Linked DNA regions of Homo sapiens: region 1 is linked to region 2. Evidence: fine-mapped expression QTL. Tissue or cell type: tibial nerve. Region 2 holds a variant in brackets; the other region holds the start of a gene. All regions are shown on one strand. Distances are from middle to middle.

What was found. PIP is the estimated chance that this variant, and not a neighbour inherited with it, causes the effect.
Region 1: SEC31B starts here. The variant in region 2 is fine-mapped to the expression of SEC31B in tibial nerve (GTEx, PIP above 0.99). The same link has a PIP of 0.9 or more in fibroblasts.

Annotation. Positions count from the first base shown.
Region 1 is chr10:100,514,835-100,522,932 of GRCh38, reverse strand. It overlaps SEC31B (SEC31 homolog B, COPII component), which reads left to right and starts at 3,072. Exons shown (of 26, transcript NM_015490.4): 1 at 3,072-3,151; 2 at 5,936-6,059; 3 at 6,714-6,837. The coding sequence starts at 5,981.
Region 2 is chr10:100,488,956-100,497,064 of GRCh38, reverse strand. SEC31B (SEC31 homolog B, COPII component) reads left to right here. Exons shown (of 26, transcript NM_015490.4): 18 at 634-807; 19 at 1,519-1,680; 20 at 6,182-6,359; 21 at 6,743-7,057; 22 at 7,304-7,362; 23 at 7,667-7,813; 24 at 8,091-8,109. Among named protein-coding and RNA genes, the nearest start is that of SEC31B, 27 kb to the left of the region's middle. The variant T/G (reference allele first, on the strand shown) is at 3,424.

The DNA.
Region 1 (8,098 bases), 26 kb before region 2:
CCCAGGAGGTCAAGGTTGCGGTGAGATGGTGGCACTGCACTCCAGCCTGGGCGACAGAGCCAGACCGTCTCAAAACAAAAAAAAACAAAAAAAACTCCTTAATAATAGTGGTTACTTGGAAAAAAATGTGCTCTAACGTGTTTCAAGTATATTACAGGACTGATAAGTGTTTTTGTCCTGTCTGCCTAAGGCTGCGACTGCCTCTGATCTTATTTCCGTTATAAGAATATTCCTTATTCCAAAGCAGCTTCTGAATCATAGCTTCTTAATAAGTTGACATTACCTGTATTTATGAATTGGAGGACAGTCAGTGAGTTACTACTGAACATGTTCATAGCTTTGATTACTTTTGATGACTCATCCACACTCCTATAACAGTCTTAGAGAAAAACTATGTTTTTGAGAGTCTATCATTCATCTGTTTTTTGTTTTATTTAGAGATAGGATCTTCCTCTGTTCCCCAGGTGGAAGTGCAGTAGCACAATCATAGCTCTCTGTAGCCTCAAACCCCTGGGCTCAAGGGATCCTCCTTACTCAACCTCCCTAGTAGCTAGGATTACTGGGATGTACGAACCTAAGTTTCTTATTTTTTGTTGAGGTGGGATCTTGCTATGTTGCCCAGGCTGGCTCAAACTCCTGGCCTCAAGCAATCCTGCCTCAGCTTCCTAAAGCACTGGGAATACAGGCAGGAGCCACTGTACCCAGCCCTCATGTCTATTTTTAAGTGAACCAACCCATATTCCTTTGGGGACATATTCTTAAGTTACAGTATATTGCCGGAAAACCTGTCCCATAGAAAAGCATACATTTTATGTGACCAAAAGAAGCAAGTTCATTCAAATTAGATGTGGAGTCTTAGTTGTGCAGGCAGTGAGAGACCTTTTGTGAGGTCAGGGAGTGGATACTTGTGGAATGCTATTCTTTGAAGGTCCCCACTGGCTTTTTATCTGTCTTCATTCTCTATAGCATTTGATAATCATTTCCTTAACAAACACCTGTGTGTCTAATATGTATCAAACACTGATAAGCCCTGGAGATATAAAACTGAGCAAGACAAAGTAATCACCTTCAAATATTACATAGGAGACCAGCAGTTATAATACAAAGTGAAAATAATTCTTTATCATTATTACTATTGAGACAGGGTCTCACGCTGTTGCCCAGGCTGCAGTGTAGTGGTGTGATCACAGCTCACTGCAGCCTCTACCTCCCAGGCCCAAGCGGTCCTCTCACTGTAGCCTCCCAAGCAGCTGGGACCACAGGGATGCACCAACACACCTGGCTAATTTTTGTATTTTTTGTAGAGACAGGGTTTCACCATGTTGCCCAGGCTGGTCTTAAACTTGTGGGCTCAAGCAATCCACCTGCCTTGGTCTCCCAAAGTGTTGGGATTATGGGTGTGGGCCACTATGCCAGGCCAAAAAGAATTTTTTTTTTTTTTTTTTGAGACATGGTCTCACTCTGTCACCCAGGCTGGAGTGCAGTGGCATGATCTCAGCTCACTGCAACCTCTGCCTCCCAGGTTCAAGTGATTCTCATGCCTCAGCCTCCCGAGTAGCTGGGATTACAGGCACATGCCACCACGCCCAGCCAATTTTTTCGGTATTTTTTGGTAGAGATGTAGTTTCACCATATTGGTCAGGCTGGTCTTGAACTCCTGACCTCGAGTGATCTGCCCGCCTCAGCCTCCCAAAGTGCTAGGATTACAGGCATGAGCCACTGCTCCCAGCAAGAATTCTTAAGAGGTGTGAGTTGAGAAAGTGCACTTTTAATTTGGCTTAATCATGTCCTACCCGAAACTGTGACTTAAGCTTCTGGTTCAAATTTCTTTAGGAGTATTCCATCAGTAACTCTTCTGCCTCCTTCTCTCAGGTTTAGTTTTTAACCCTGTTTACTTTTCCTCAGGCTTCATTCCCTGTTGTGCCAGCTAAGAAGTTCAGGAAATACTTGAGTACTTAGTAGGTAGGAAGCGTGGGCTAGGCACAGATAATGCACTGAATTACCTTCTGTCTAACTTCAAAATTGCCAGATCCACATGGAAGGGAACTGGAGTCGTGTCACAATGAGTTGGGCTCCATCATGATAACTGGCCCCCCATCTTTGGAGGTGTATCAGGCAGGAATACAGAGAATTCATGCGTTAAGCATAAGTTTCTAAGATTTAAAGCTGCCTACAGAATTTTTTTTTTTTTTTTGAGATGGAGTCTCTGTCACCCAGGCTGGAGTGCAGTGGCGTGATCTCAGCTCACTGCAACCTCCACCTCCCGGGTTCAAGCTATTCTCATGCCTCAGCCTCGTGAGTAGCTGGGACTACAGGCCTGCACCACCATGCCCGGCTAATTTTTATATTTTTGGTAGCGACGGAGTTTCACCATGTTGGCCAGGCTGGTCTCGAACTCCTGACCTTTGGTGATATGCCCACCTTGGCCTCCCAAAGTGCTGGGATTACAGGTGTGAGCCACTGCACCCGACCTGTCTACAGAACATTTTTATTTGGAAGTGGCACAATTTCTTCAACATAAAAAATACATTATCGGCTGGAATATCACCTGTGTTCTTGCAGCTCCAGAGGATAACACCCCTCCTATGTTCCTCAAATATTTCAGGAAGCCCCTGGCCCTGTAGTCTCACCCTCCATACACTTATAGCCCTTAATTCAACCAAGTTTTGGGCACCAGTTTCTGCTGGGCTGCAGTGCAACACTCACTGCCATTTACAGCCTCGATTGCTTTTTACGTTTTCAACTAAATGGATTCCACTGAGGGCTCCTGGGGCCAGGGCCGGGTCTTCTCCCGCTTCAATACATAGATAATGAGTTAGTATTTTCCCTTTTCAGAGACTGGCCCTAGAGCCTGGCTCAAACTGAATAGACCAGAACTTACTGGTCCAGATCTGACCCGCTGCGCAATCACAGGGTAGGTGAGGGAGGCCCGGTTAAAAGCTATAATCCTGTTTGGAAACGTTCTCCGTGGGTCTGTCAGTGTCTCGGGCTCGGCGCCCGCGGAGCGTGTTTCCGACGGTGCCCTGCCGGGGTCCGCGCCGCTTTGGTCCTCCGCAGCCGCCGTCCACAGCGCCCGGCTCCGCGCGAGAGCCCTGCCAGAGGAGCGGCTCCGGCCGCCGCGCCTGACCCTTGTCCGGGGTCTTCCGCACAGGTTGGTTCGCCCCGCCGGTCTGGGGTCCCTGGTAGCAGAGATTGCGCTGGGGACCCGGAGCACTGCTCCTTTCTCGGCAGAGCGCGGAGGGGAGCCCGCTTGCTGCGGAGCCCCCGGCCCGCGCCTGCCCTGCCCGCGGGTCCGGGCCTCGGGGGCCTCCACTACGTCTACCCTTGAATTGGATCCGGCTCTACTGTCCCTGCCGCACGGGAACCCCCAGCCGGATGAGGGTCTCCCTGTTCACTGCTGCCTTGCGCCTTCCCATCCGCCTTGGTCCTGACCTGGCCCAGCCGAGGCCGTCCGGTGTCGCTGCGTTTGGGCTGGGCGGGAAGGTCTGTCATTGCTGACCCTGGCGCGCCGCGCTTCGGCGACAGCGGGAAAGAGGCTGTGCTGACCGTCCTCCCTAGGGACTGGACTGCCAAGGGTAGCTGGTGCCCTCCTGCACGGCAGGTCTGTCGAGCATTTCATTGGTCATCTCCCCCTCACGCCCCCATGGCCAATCTGACCCCAGCGGGGGCCCTTTTTTTGTGAATAGATGCCTCTTAACAATGTGAATTAAGAGCCCATTTTCCCAGTTCCTAGACTGTCAGCGATTAAAACACTTTCTAGGGTTTACTTGCGACTAGTACAGTGGTTAGAAATACGGGCTCTTGATGCTGATGGGGGTTCACATCCCGGCCTAGCCAGTTGTCATCTCTAGAAAATGGGGATAATCATAGTACTTACCTGATAAGACCACTGAGAGAATTAACTGAGATATGCACATCAAATGCACAGCTGCTTATCGCAGCTCCTATTTTTGTTGTTAGGGAATCTTTTCCCAGAAACATTAAAATGGCTGTGACCAGCAGGTGGCACTGGTGACTGTATAGTAGAGTGTTGAGCTGGTCACAGAATACGTGATAGTAGCCACAAGTGTTTAAAGGTGCTTTGGAAATCTTGGCTTAATGGGCAGGCTTAAACTTTCTTCACGCTAGAAAGTACCTTAGAGATTAAGTAATACTATCTCCTGTTTTTGTAGGTGAGACTGATCTGACTATAGCTTACTCAAGCAGGTCACAGTAGGTCCCAAGCTTTCTCCTCAAGTTCAGTGTAATTTTTAAAAATCATTTCTACCTGTTTGCTAGCCTGTTGGGATGGGACCTTGAATATACATTGGAATTAGATCAGAAACCACAGAGTTAAAATGGATGTCCACATTCGAGCTTTTACCATATGCCAGACATTCGTTTGGAAACTAGTTACAACATGGTGAACAAAAGCCGACACAGTGTCAGCTCTCATGGAGCTTGCATATTAGTGGAAGAGACTGACAATGTCAATATAAATAAATATGTAATTATAAATTACTAGGAAGAAAAAAACTGAGGCTTTTTGTGATTGGGTAGTTCACTTATTTGGGGAAGTAAGCTGAGCCCAGAAAGATATAAGGAGCCAGTCATGTCGAAAGTGAAGGGAAGAGCATTCAAAGTATAGGGAACAGCATTTGTAAAGGCTCTAAGGAAGGAAAATGTCAGGAAATTAAAGGCTAGTGTGGCTGAAGCACAATGAATGAGAAAAGTATTAAAAGATGAAGTTGAAGTGGTAGGCTGGAGCCTTTGGGCAGGGCTCAAAGAAGTTTGAATTTTATTCTGTGTGTGATAGAAATCATTGAAAGATTTTAAGCATGGAATGCCAAAATCATTTTTTATTTTAGAAGTTCACTCCTGCTGCTGTGTAAAGAACGAATTGGGTAATGGCTTGAGTAGAAAGGGGATAGCTAGTTGGGAGGTTGTTGGAGTACTCCAGGTGAGAGATGATACAATCAAAAAGGCTGTTGGCAGCGAAAATAGAGAAAAGTAGACAGATTGAGATATATTTTGGAGGTTAAATCAAGGAGACTAAATGATGGATTAGAAGAGAATGAGGGAGAAGGAGGGATCAAGAGGGATTTTCAGGCTTCTGGGTTGAGCAATTGGGTGGATAGTGGAACCATTTACCAAGATGAAAAAAACTGGAGGAAGAACAGAAGAGATTGTGACTTTGCTCCTTTCTGAAAAAAACAAATAAAAAAAGACCATAAAAGATGGTAGAATAGAGAACTCCATTTTAGACAGACTAAAATGGGAGTTCCCTCCCCCATTAAGTATCTACTATATCCAAGTGAAATATTTGATTGGAAATTGCGTATAAGCAGCTGATCACTTGAGGTCAGGAGTTCGAGACCAGCCTGGCCAACACGGTAAAACTACGTCTCTACTAAAAATACAAAAATTAGCCAGGCATGGTGGCACATGCCTGTTATCCCAGCCACTCGGGAGGCTGAGGCAGGAGAATCACTTGAACCCAGGAGGCAGGGGTTGCAGTGAGCTGAGATCGTGTCACTGCACTCCAGCCTGGGTGACAGAGCAAGACTTGGTCTAAAAAACGAAAAGAAATTGCATATAAGAACTTGGAGCTTAGAGGAGAGATTTGTGATGGTGATATAAATTTGGGGATCATCAGCATATGGGTGCTATTTAAAGCCAAGGAAATGGACAAACATCACTGAGAGATTGTCTGGTTTGATGGTTATCACCACTGGACCTGTGGTAGCCATTGTGGTTGAGTATCATTTGAGGTTTAAAGCATTACATTTCAGTAATTGGGTGAATGAACTATCTTTAGATCTGCAGATGGTCATGTATTTGTCACTCTGTGTTGCCCTGAAATGCCCTATCTTGTGATGGAGAAAGACAAACAAGAACTCTTGTCCGCAGATGCTCCCTGGATCTGGCTGTTAAGTTTGCTGGTTTCTATTTTCAGTGGGCTGAGGGCCATGTCAGTTTTCTGCCACCTACAGGATAGACCATGAAGCTGAAGGAACTTGAGCGGCCAGCTGTCCAGGCATGGAGCCCAGCCAGCCAATACCCTTTGTATCTGGCCACAGGTATGGTGACACTGTGAATTAGGATCCACTGGGAGTACATAAGTTGAGGGGAAACTTAGTATCTAGAATTATTTATTGAACATCAGAGAAAGCTCTCAGATCATAGAAAGATAGGGTGGCTCACAGCATAAGCAAGGAGATATTAGGTGTTTTGGGTACCTGAGGGCTGCCTAGGACTATGGCTCAAGGTTAGGTACGTCTTTTTTTTTTTTTTTTTTTTTTTTTGAGACAGAGTCTCACTCTGTCGCTCAGGCTGGAGTGCAGTGGCGCGATCTTGGCTCACTGCAAGCTCCGCCTCCTGGGTTCATGCCATTCTCCTGCCTCAGCCTCCTGAGTAGCTGGGACTACAGGTACCCACCACCACATCTGGCTAATTTTTTTTGTAGTTTTAGTAGAGACAGGGTTTCACCATGTTAGCCAGGATGGTCTCGATCTCCTGACCTTGTGATCTGCCCACCTCGGCGTCCCAAAATGTTGGGATTACAGGCGTGAGCCACCGCGCCCAGCCAACGTTTTCTTGCTTTTGTGGAGTTACCTTTGAGAAAGGGTATACCCAGCCCTCTTCTGTTCCTTCTCTTCTTCACTCCTTAACCTTCTTATACCTGAAATCCATGCATATATTGTTGCTCATATGCTGCCTTTTCTTGTGCCTAGGAACATCTGCCCAACAGCTAGATTCCTCCTTCAGCACAAATGGCACATTGGAAATATTTGAGGTTGATTTCAGGGACCCTTCTCTGGACTTGAAACACAGAGGAGTCCTTTCTGCCTTGAGCAGGTATTGTCTGATCTATTGATGGGTATACAGGGTAGATACTGACGTGGAATCCTGGGAGCAGTGTGTGTTTCTTAGGGCTCATGAGGAGCCAAGTGAGGGAAGAAGGAGCTTTGCCAAGTTGGAGAAAAGTTAATTCTGGGCTTATTTTGCAAAAGGATTTAAAAAACAACCACCCCCCCCCTTTCCAGTCAGCAGCAATAGCAGTGTCAGGCTGAATGCATGTGATAGAGATGCCTCAGACAAGCCTGGACCCACGTGTACCTGGTCTGTCTTTGAACCCAGAGATATTGGCTCCTTCCTCCCTTGGCTCTTGTGAAGATAAACACCTTACACAATATCACCCTCTCTGCCAACAAGGAAGAGAACGAATGATCCTCTCCTTATTGCTTTTAGACACTGATTGGTTCTCATGGATTTCATGGCTCTTGCAGGCTTCCAGCGCTAGATACTATCATTCATTGAGCACATGTATACATGCCAGACACTGTGCTAGGGGCTCTGTACATTTTATTTATTCCTCATAATAAACCTAAGTGATAAGTACCATATTTCCATTTTACATAGGAGGGAACTGAAACTCTGAGAAGCTAGGATTTAAGTCAAGGCCTATCTGTGTCCAAAGCCTACCTTCTTTCCATCATTCTGCCCTTCTTCTAAAGGTCTTGTAAAGTTGAGGCTTACAATCTGAAGCAATGGTCTCCAAATGTTTATATCATCAGAAAAAATGTGAATATTCATTATACTCAAGTTATATATTCAATATAAATGTATACATGTACTACTATACCGTTTTTGTTTTTGTTTGGAACAGGGTCTTACTCTGTCGCCCAGGCTGGATTGCAGTGGCACGATCACGGCTCACTGCAACCTCCACCTCCTGGGCTCAAGCAATCCTCCCGCCTCAGCCCCCTGAGTAGCTGGGACTGCAGGCATATGCCACCACACCGAGCTAATTTTTTATATTTTTAGAAGAGATGGGGTTTTGCCATGTTGCCCAGGCTGGTCTTGAACTCCTGAGCTCAAGCGATCAGCCCCCTTGGCCTCCCAAAGTGCTGGGACTATAGGTGTGAGCCACTGAGCCAGCTGGCTCTACTATTTTTTTTTTTTTTTTTTTTGAGATGGAGTCTCACTCTCTCGCCCAGTCTGGAGTGCAGTGGGGTGATCTCAGATCACTGCAACCTCTGTTTCCCAGGTTCAAGGGATTCTCCTGCCTCAGCCGCCCGAGTAGCTGGGACTACAGGTGCGCGCCACCACACCTGGC
Region 2 (8,109 bases):
GAGCTAGCAGAGGCGAATCTTCTGGGACAGGCTGGAACCACGGTGTTAGGGAGGAGCGAAAGGTCCTGAATGTCTGGGATCTTCTCCTCTTCCCTCAGAGAAGACTAAGCAGCAGCTGCTTCAGTGTTAGTCTTCATAATTTTTTTCCTATTTCAGGTTTGGTTTTACAGATGTATTCAGTACTTGAGTAATTGTGGCTTGGCCCTTCTATTAGCTACTGTGGAAAGTTCTGTGGATCTAAACTTCCAGGTGTTCTGTGGGTGACCACAGAAAGTGGGGGTCACAGACTCATGGAGAGACAAAAGTCGCACATGAAACAATTAGTCTGACAGAGTCTGTGGTTGGTGATGTATAAGCAGAAAGGGTAAAAAAGCAAAAGGAAGAGGTAGAGATGTACAAAAATCTAAGACCCAGATGGGTCCAGTTAAATCCAATCCTAACAGCTTGGGAGGTGAGGCCAGGTGGCCCTTCTCTGTCACAGTTCTTACGTGTCATCATCTGCTGCCTTCACCTAGGTATGGTCAGGTGCCCTCATCTGTACCCATAGTGGGAGATCCCTGAATGAGCTGCGTGGACTTAGAGAGCAGGATATGCCTCATTGAAGGCTTACCACCCTCATCCTTGCCCTTACAGGACCTGATGGAGAAGGTGATGGTTCTTAACAGGAGCTTGGAGCAACTGCGGGGTCCTCATGGGGTGAGCCCAGGCCCTGCCACAACCTACAGGGTCACTCAGTATGCCAACCTCCTGGCAGCCCAGGGCAGCCTGGCCACTGCCATGAGCTTTCTACCCAGGGACTGTGCTCAGGTAAGTGGGGCCATGTGGAGAGAGCAAACCATTTCATTCAGTCATCTAACATTGATTGAGCACTTCCATATTCCAGGCACTATGCTAATGCTGAAGCTCCTAGGATAGATAAGATGGAATCCCTTAAGCACCTCACAATCTACTGGGGGAAGATCAGATGTTGATGACTTATAGTGCCATAACAGAAGCTTATACTGAGCACTGTGGGAGTCCAGGGAAGGGACTGATTTTTGCCTGGAGAAGTCAAGGAAGGCTTCTCAATGGTTAAAACAGCTGAGCTGGACCTTCAAAGAGAAGTAGCTTACCAGCAGATATAGAGCATTCTAAGCAGAAAGAATAGCAAGGAGGGAGGCATGCAAGTGTTTGGCAGGGATTCAGGAACCTTGAGTCATCTCTAAGGGGGCTAGAGTATAGAGCGGGGGTGTCCAAGGGTCAGAATACAGTCGTGGGTGCTTAGTTTCTGTTTCTGGTTGGGCCAGTAAAGCCCCTTCCTCATCCCGGTTTTCCACTTATCACTAGAGACAAACCAAAAACCATGGCTTCAGGCTGCTAAAAACCTAAAACAAAACAAAACAGAACAGAACAACAACAACAACAAAATAACACAGGTTGGACAAGCTTGGTGTAGAGGGTCAGCTGAAATTTGACTGCTACCTGGGGCCTTGATTGTTTTAATTTCTTGACACAGCTCTTCCTCATTAAAACTTATAGCCACCAGTTCAGCAGCTAAGAGATCGGCTTTTTCATGCTCAAGGTTCTGCTGTCTTGGGCCAACAGTCTCCCCCTTTCCCCTTCCCCCGGATTGTTGTGGGAGCTACCCTCCACTCTAAAGAGACATCATCTTACAGATTGGGATCCCAGCCTTCTCACCAGGTAAGACCTCGTTTGTTCATTCATTTGTTCATTCAATAATACGTGCCAAGCATGGTTCTGGGCACTTGGAATATATTGTGAACAAAACTGATGAAAATTCCCAACTTCCATAGAACATAGATTCAGTTCTTTTTATAATAAATAACTGTTTATTGAACTACTAGGCTCTTAGGACATAAAGGTGCAAAAATTGTGATACTTGCCCTCAAGTAGCTCATAGTGTAGTCGAAAGATAGATATGTAAAAAATAGCTACAGTAGGCCTGGCGTGGTGGCTCACGCCTGTAATCCCAGCACTTTGGGAGGCCAAAGCGGGCAGATCATGAGGTTTGGAGTTCGAGACCATCCTAGCCAACATGGTGAAACCCCATCTCTACTGAAAATACAAAATAATGATCTGGGCATGGTGGCACGTGCCTGTAGTCCCAGCTACTCGGGAGGCTGAGGCAGGAGTATCACTTGAACCTGGGAGGTGGAGGTTGAAGTGAGCCCAGATCATACCACTGCACTCCAGCCTGGCAACGGAGCGAGACTCCGTCTCAAAAAAAAAAAAAAAAAAATAGCTACAGTAAAATTCATAAATACCATGATTGGGGTATGGCAAGGGGCTATAAGATCACACAGATGAAAGTAGTTTACTCTGTATGGTGAGGTTGTGGGGGCAGTCCAGGGAGTGTTTCAGAACAAGTCGGATGTTTGATCAGAGTTTCAAAGATTAAAAGGTTTTAGGCAAAGGGATGAGCAAGTGAAGACTGTTTCAGGCACAGAGAATAGCATGTACAAAGGCACTGAAGCAAGAGTAAGCCGAAGCCTTTTGAGAATTACTATTATTTAATTGGGGCTGCAACACAGGTGTTTGTGGCTGTGAAGTTAGATGAAGCTGGAACAACAGGTAGGAGTTAGATCACTAAGGACCTAGCATTCTGTGCTAAAGAACTTAAACTTGACAGGGAGGAGCTATTGAACAGTTTTAGGAAGAGTGACATAATTAGCTGTATGTTAGGAAGGGCCAGGCTGGAGGGAGTTAGGCTATAGTAAGGGATGATGAAGACATGAAATAACTAAAGCTAGCCAGTGAGGTTGGATTTGAAATACTTAGTACTTAGTAGATAGAACTGACAGAATTGCTGATAGTTTGGAGAGGTGTGTGTGTGGTTGGGGGTACTGAGGGAGAGGAAAGAGGTTCTGGCCAAAGTGCCCGGGGGGATTGGATACTGTTAAGATGTGAGGCCAGAAGCTTGCTAGAGCTGCCGGAGAACAGAATCCAGGGAGATTTGGATACAGTTACCAGGCAGAAGCTCTGATGGCTCATCTTGTCCCACCTTCAATCCCCACCCTAATTCCTTTTCTTTTTTTCCCTCCCTTTCCTCCCTCCCTTTCTTCCCTCCCTTGTCTCCCCTTTTCCCCTTCCCCTCCTCTCCTCTCTCTCTCCCTCTCCCCGTCTCTTTTCATTTAAAAATAACCATAGATTCACAGGAGGTGGCAAAGAAATGTACTGGGATGTCTCCTGCATCCCAACAACACCCCGCCCCGTGTCGGCATCTCACACAACCACAGTACGCTATCAAAACCAAGAAATTGCCATTAGTACAATCCATGGATTCAGATTTCAGATTCAGTCTCCACCAGTTTTACATATTGTTAGGTGTGTGTTTATGTGTGTTTATGCAGTTTTGTCACATTGTGGTGTGTAACCACCACCAAAATCAAGATACTCAATTTTACCATCACCACAAGACTCTCT[T/G]GTGTTACCTCTTTTATAGCTGCACTTATTCTGCCTCCCTCATCCTTGGCTTCACCAATATGTTCTCCAGCTCTATCATTGTTATTTAACGATTGTTACTTAAATAGAATCATGGCAATATGTATCCTTTTGAGATTGGCTTTTCTCCCTTAGCATAACTTCTTTGAGGTTCATTCAAGTTGTTCTGTGTACCAGTAGTTCACTCATTCTTATTGCAGAGTAGTATTCCATGGTGTGAATGTACCATGGTTTTAATTTTTTTTTTTTTTGAGATGGAGTCTTGCTTTGTTGCCCAGGCTGGAGTGCAGTGGCGCGATCTTGGCTCACTGCAAGCTCTGCCTCCCAGGTTCACGCCATTCTCCTGCCTCAGCCTCCCGAGTAGCTTGTACTACAGGCGCCCGCCACCACGCCCGGATAATTTTTTGTATTTTTAGTGGAGATGGGGTTTCACCATGTTAGCCAGGATGGTCTTGATCTCCCGACCTCGTGATCCGCCCGCCTCGGCCTCCCAAAGCGCTGGGATTATAGGCATGAGCCACCGCGCCCGGCCCCAGTTTTAATTTTTTTAGCCATTCAAACTTTGAAGGACATTCGGATAGTTTCCAATTTGGGGTATTATGAGTAAAGCTGCTATGAGTATTCAAATACAAGTTCCTAACTGACATCTTTACTAGGTTCAGTCTTTCAGTCCATGAATGTGGCATGTTTCTCCATCAGCGTTTTATAATTTTTGTCACACCAATCCTGTACATATTTTGTCCAATTCATACTTAAGTATTTAATTTTTTATATCACCTGTCAGCTCATGCCTACTAAGTATTTAATTTTTTTCTTCAGCAGTTTAAAATCAAATTTCTTGGTTTCCACTTGTTCATTGTGAGTATATAGAAATGCAGTTGATTTTTATGTGTTGATCTGGTTATATCCTGTGACTTTCCTGAATAGTTATAGAAGTTTTTTGTGGATTCCATGGGGTTTTCTAATAGACAGTCATGCTGTCTACAAATCTGCAAATAGATAGTTTTCTTTCTTTTCAATCTATATGCATTTAATTTCTTTCTTATGCCTTATTGTAGTGACTAGGACTTCCAGTCTCTGTTAAATAAGAATAGTGAACATAAGCCAGGCGCTGTGGCTCATACCTGTAATCCCAGCACTTTGGGAAACTGAGGTGGGTGGATCACCTAAGGTCAGGAGTTGAGACCAGCCTGGCCAACATGGTGAGACCCCATCTCTACTAAAAATATAAAATTAACCGGGCATGGTGGCGCATGCCTGTAATCCCAGCTACTCAGGAGGCAAGGCTGGAGAGTCGCTTGAACCCGGGAGGTGGAGGTTGCAGTGAGCTGAGATTGTGCCATTGCACTCCAGCCTGGGCACCAAGAGCGAAACTCTGTCTCAAAAAAAATAAATAAATAGTGAACATGAATGTTCTTGCCTTGTTTCCAGTCTTAGAGGAAAAACATTCAATATTTCAGCATTAAGCATGATGTTAGCTTTAGGTTTTTCACAGATGCTCTTTATGAGACCAAGGACATTTCCCTCTATTCCTTGTGTCTTAATCCATTTTGTGCCACTATAACAGAATACCACAGACTGGGAAATTTATAAAGAACAGAAATTTATTTCTTATGGTTCTGGAGTCCAAGATCAAGGCACCAGCAGGTATGGTTCCAGCAGGTACGGTTCCACCCTCTAGTTGCAAGATGGTGCCTTGCTGCTGTGTTCTCACATGGCAGATAGCAGATGTGCAAGAGAAAGCAAACCCACTCCTGCAAGTCATTTTTGTAGTGGCATTAATCCATTAATGAGGGCAGAGCCCTCATGACCTAAACACTTACAAAAAGTCCCACTTTCCCAACACTGTTGCATTGAGGATTCAGTTTTCAACACATGACTTTGGGGAGCATATTCAGACCATAACACCTTGTGTACTAGATCATGAATCGGTGTTGAATTTTGTCAAATGTTTTTTCTGCATCATTTCTGTCATCATGTTATTTTCATTCTTTAGTTTGTTGGTATAGGGGATTAAATTGATTGGTTTTTAAATATCTTGGATCAGCTTTGTATGACCTGGAATCAATCCCACTTTCTTGTGGAATATTATTTTTTATATACATTATTTGATTTGCTAAAATTTTGTTGAGGATTTTTGTGTCTAAGTTCATGAGAAATATTGATGTGTAGTTTTATTTTCTGCTATCTTTTTCTGTTGCTGGCATCAGGGTAATACTGGCCTCATGAAATTAGTTAGGAAGTGTTCCTTCTATTTTCTGGAAGAGATTACATAAACTTTGCATTAATTCTTTGACTGGTGAAATTCTCCAGTGAAACCATCTAGGCCTGGAGATTTCTTTTTTGGGAGCTTTTAAATTACAAACTCAATTTCTTTAATGGTTATAGGACTATCCAGATCTTCTTTCATTGTGACTGAGTTTTGGTAGTTTATGGTTCTTGAGGAATGGGTCCATTTCTGATAAGTTGTCAGATTTATGAATGTAAAGTTTTCTGTAGTATTCGTTTATATTTTTAATGGCTTCAGGGTCTGTTGTAATAGTCCCTGTTTCATCTCTGATGATGATTTATATCTTCTTGCTTTTTATCTTTATCAGTTTTTAGATGTTTATCAATTTTATTGATTTTTTTCCTCAAAGAACTAGTTTTTGTTTCATTAATTTTCCCTATTATTTTTCTGTTTTCTATTATTTACCTTTCTCTTTCCTTTCCAAGAGCTGATGTTTTTTTCTCTTCATAGGTCCCAACTCCATCTCCAAGGCCAAGGGTTTTCACCCCTCAGTCATCACCAGCGATGCCCTTGGCACCTTCCCATCCTAGCCCTTATCAGGGTCCCAGGACACAGAATATAAGTGACTACAGGGCACCTGGGCCCCAGGCCATCCAGCCTTTGCCTTTGAGCCCTGGGGTAAGGCCTGGTGAGTGAGTCACTGAAGATCTATCTGGGCAGAGCACAGAGGTCTCAGGAAAGCAATTGGCATGGCCAGCATGGATTTGGGAAGCTGTATGTCTGTCTAGTGAGAGGAGCTTGGAAGTTGAAGTCTGAATTCCTAATGCTATCACTGGCTTCGTACCTTTGGCAATATACCAAAGTGTTGTGTTGCTTATTTCAATGCTATGGGATTGTTTTGAAGGTCAAATAAGGAATATAGTTAAAAGTATTTTGTAAATTATAGATTTCCATATACATGTATTAATCATTTATTATTTTTTTATTGCAATCCTGTTTCTCCCTGATATGCTCTGAGTTGCTCCTGAAATGAAGTTTAGTGACAAATGACCTATTTCTGTTCTGCTTCAGCTTCATCTCAGCCACAGCTATTAGGAGGGCAAAGGGTGCAAGTTCCTAACCCGGTGGGATTCCCTGGGACATGGCCTCTTCCTGGTTCCCCTCTACCCATGGCATGCCCAGGCATCATGCGACCTGGCTCTACCTCCCTGCCTGAGACTCCTAGACTGTTCCCTCTGCTTCCTCTGAGACCACTAGGTCCCGGCCGCATGGTCTCCCACACCCCAGCCCCTCCTGCAAGCTTCCCTGTGCCATACCTTCCAGGGGACCCAGGTGCCCCATGCTCTAGTGTCCTCCCAACCACTGGCATCTTGACTCCTCACCCAGGTCAGTCTTCCTTCCATGGATCCCTCTTCTGGGTTATTGCCTCCCCTGCTCCTCTCACTACTTTGGGAGTCTTTCCTCAAGTCAGAGGGCTAGGGCCCTGTTGGGTGGAGGGTGGCTGGGAGTGTAGATGGTCTGCAGAGGGAGGTATGGTGAACTCCAACTCAAAGAATGCTTCCAGCCTTCAGATAAAAAACTTCCAGTGTTTTTCACTATGCGCCGAAAAACCTCTATCTTTTTATTCTATAGGACCTCAAGATTCCTGGAAAGAAGCCCCAGCCCCCAGGGGAAACCTCCAGAGGAACAAGGTCAATGCATCTTTCCCTACCCACTCCCTCGCACATTCACCAATGACCACGTTCTAATTCCTTGGAGGATTCAGTCAGTCCTTCCCCTTCTCAGACTGTCCCCGCCCTCCTCCCACTTACTCTTCTTTCCTCAGAACCCTCTTCTTTCTCTTTCCCTCTTACACACATACACCAGTCTCCTCACTTCCCAGTTTCCCACACTCACTCTTCTGTCTCCTTGTTCACTGTCATTCCTGCCACTCCCCAAAACCAGAGCCATGGAGTCTCTCAGGTTAGACTCATGTCTTTCCTTCTGTCTCTTTAGCTGCCAGAGACATTTATGCCCCCAGCACCAATTACTGCTCCAGTTATGAGCCTCACCCCTGAGCTACAAGGGATTCTTCCCTCACAGCCCCCTGTCTCCAGTGTGAGTCATGCTCCCCCAGGAGTTCCAGGAGAACTCAGCCTGCAGGTGACAAGGACAATGTATTCCCCTCCCTTGGGAAACCTTCCAGCCCTCCTTGGGTGCAGGTCATGGTAGATGGGCCTCATTCCTCAAGGCATGTGCTGAGGGAGACTGGGGGCAGGTACCAGGTGTCCTTACTGCAGAGAAAGGGAGGCTGCTCATCTCCCCAACTCTGCTGTAATGGGAACAGTGTGACTGTGAGTCACTGGGGACTAGTCCTTAGGGAAGCCATGAGAAGGACAGCTTGCCCCTCTGGCCTTTCTCCCTGCTTCTTTATCAGCAGCTTCAGCACCTGCCACCTG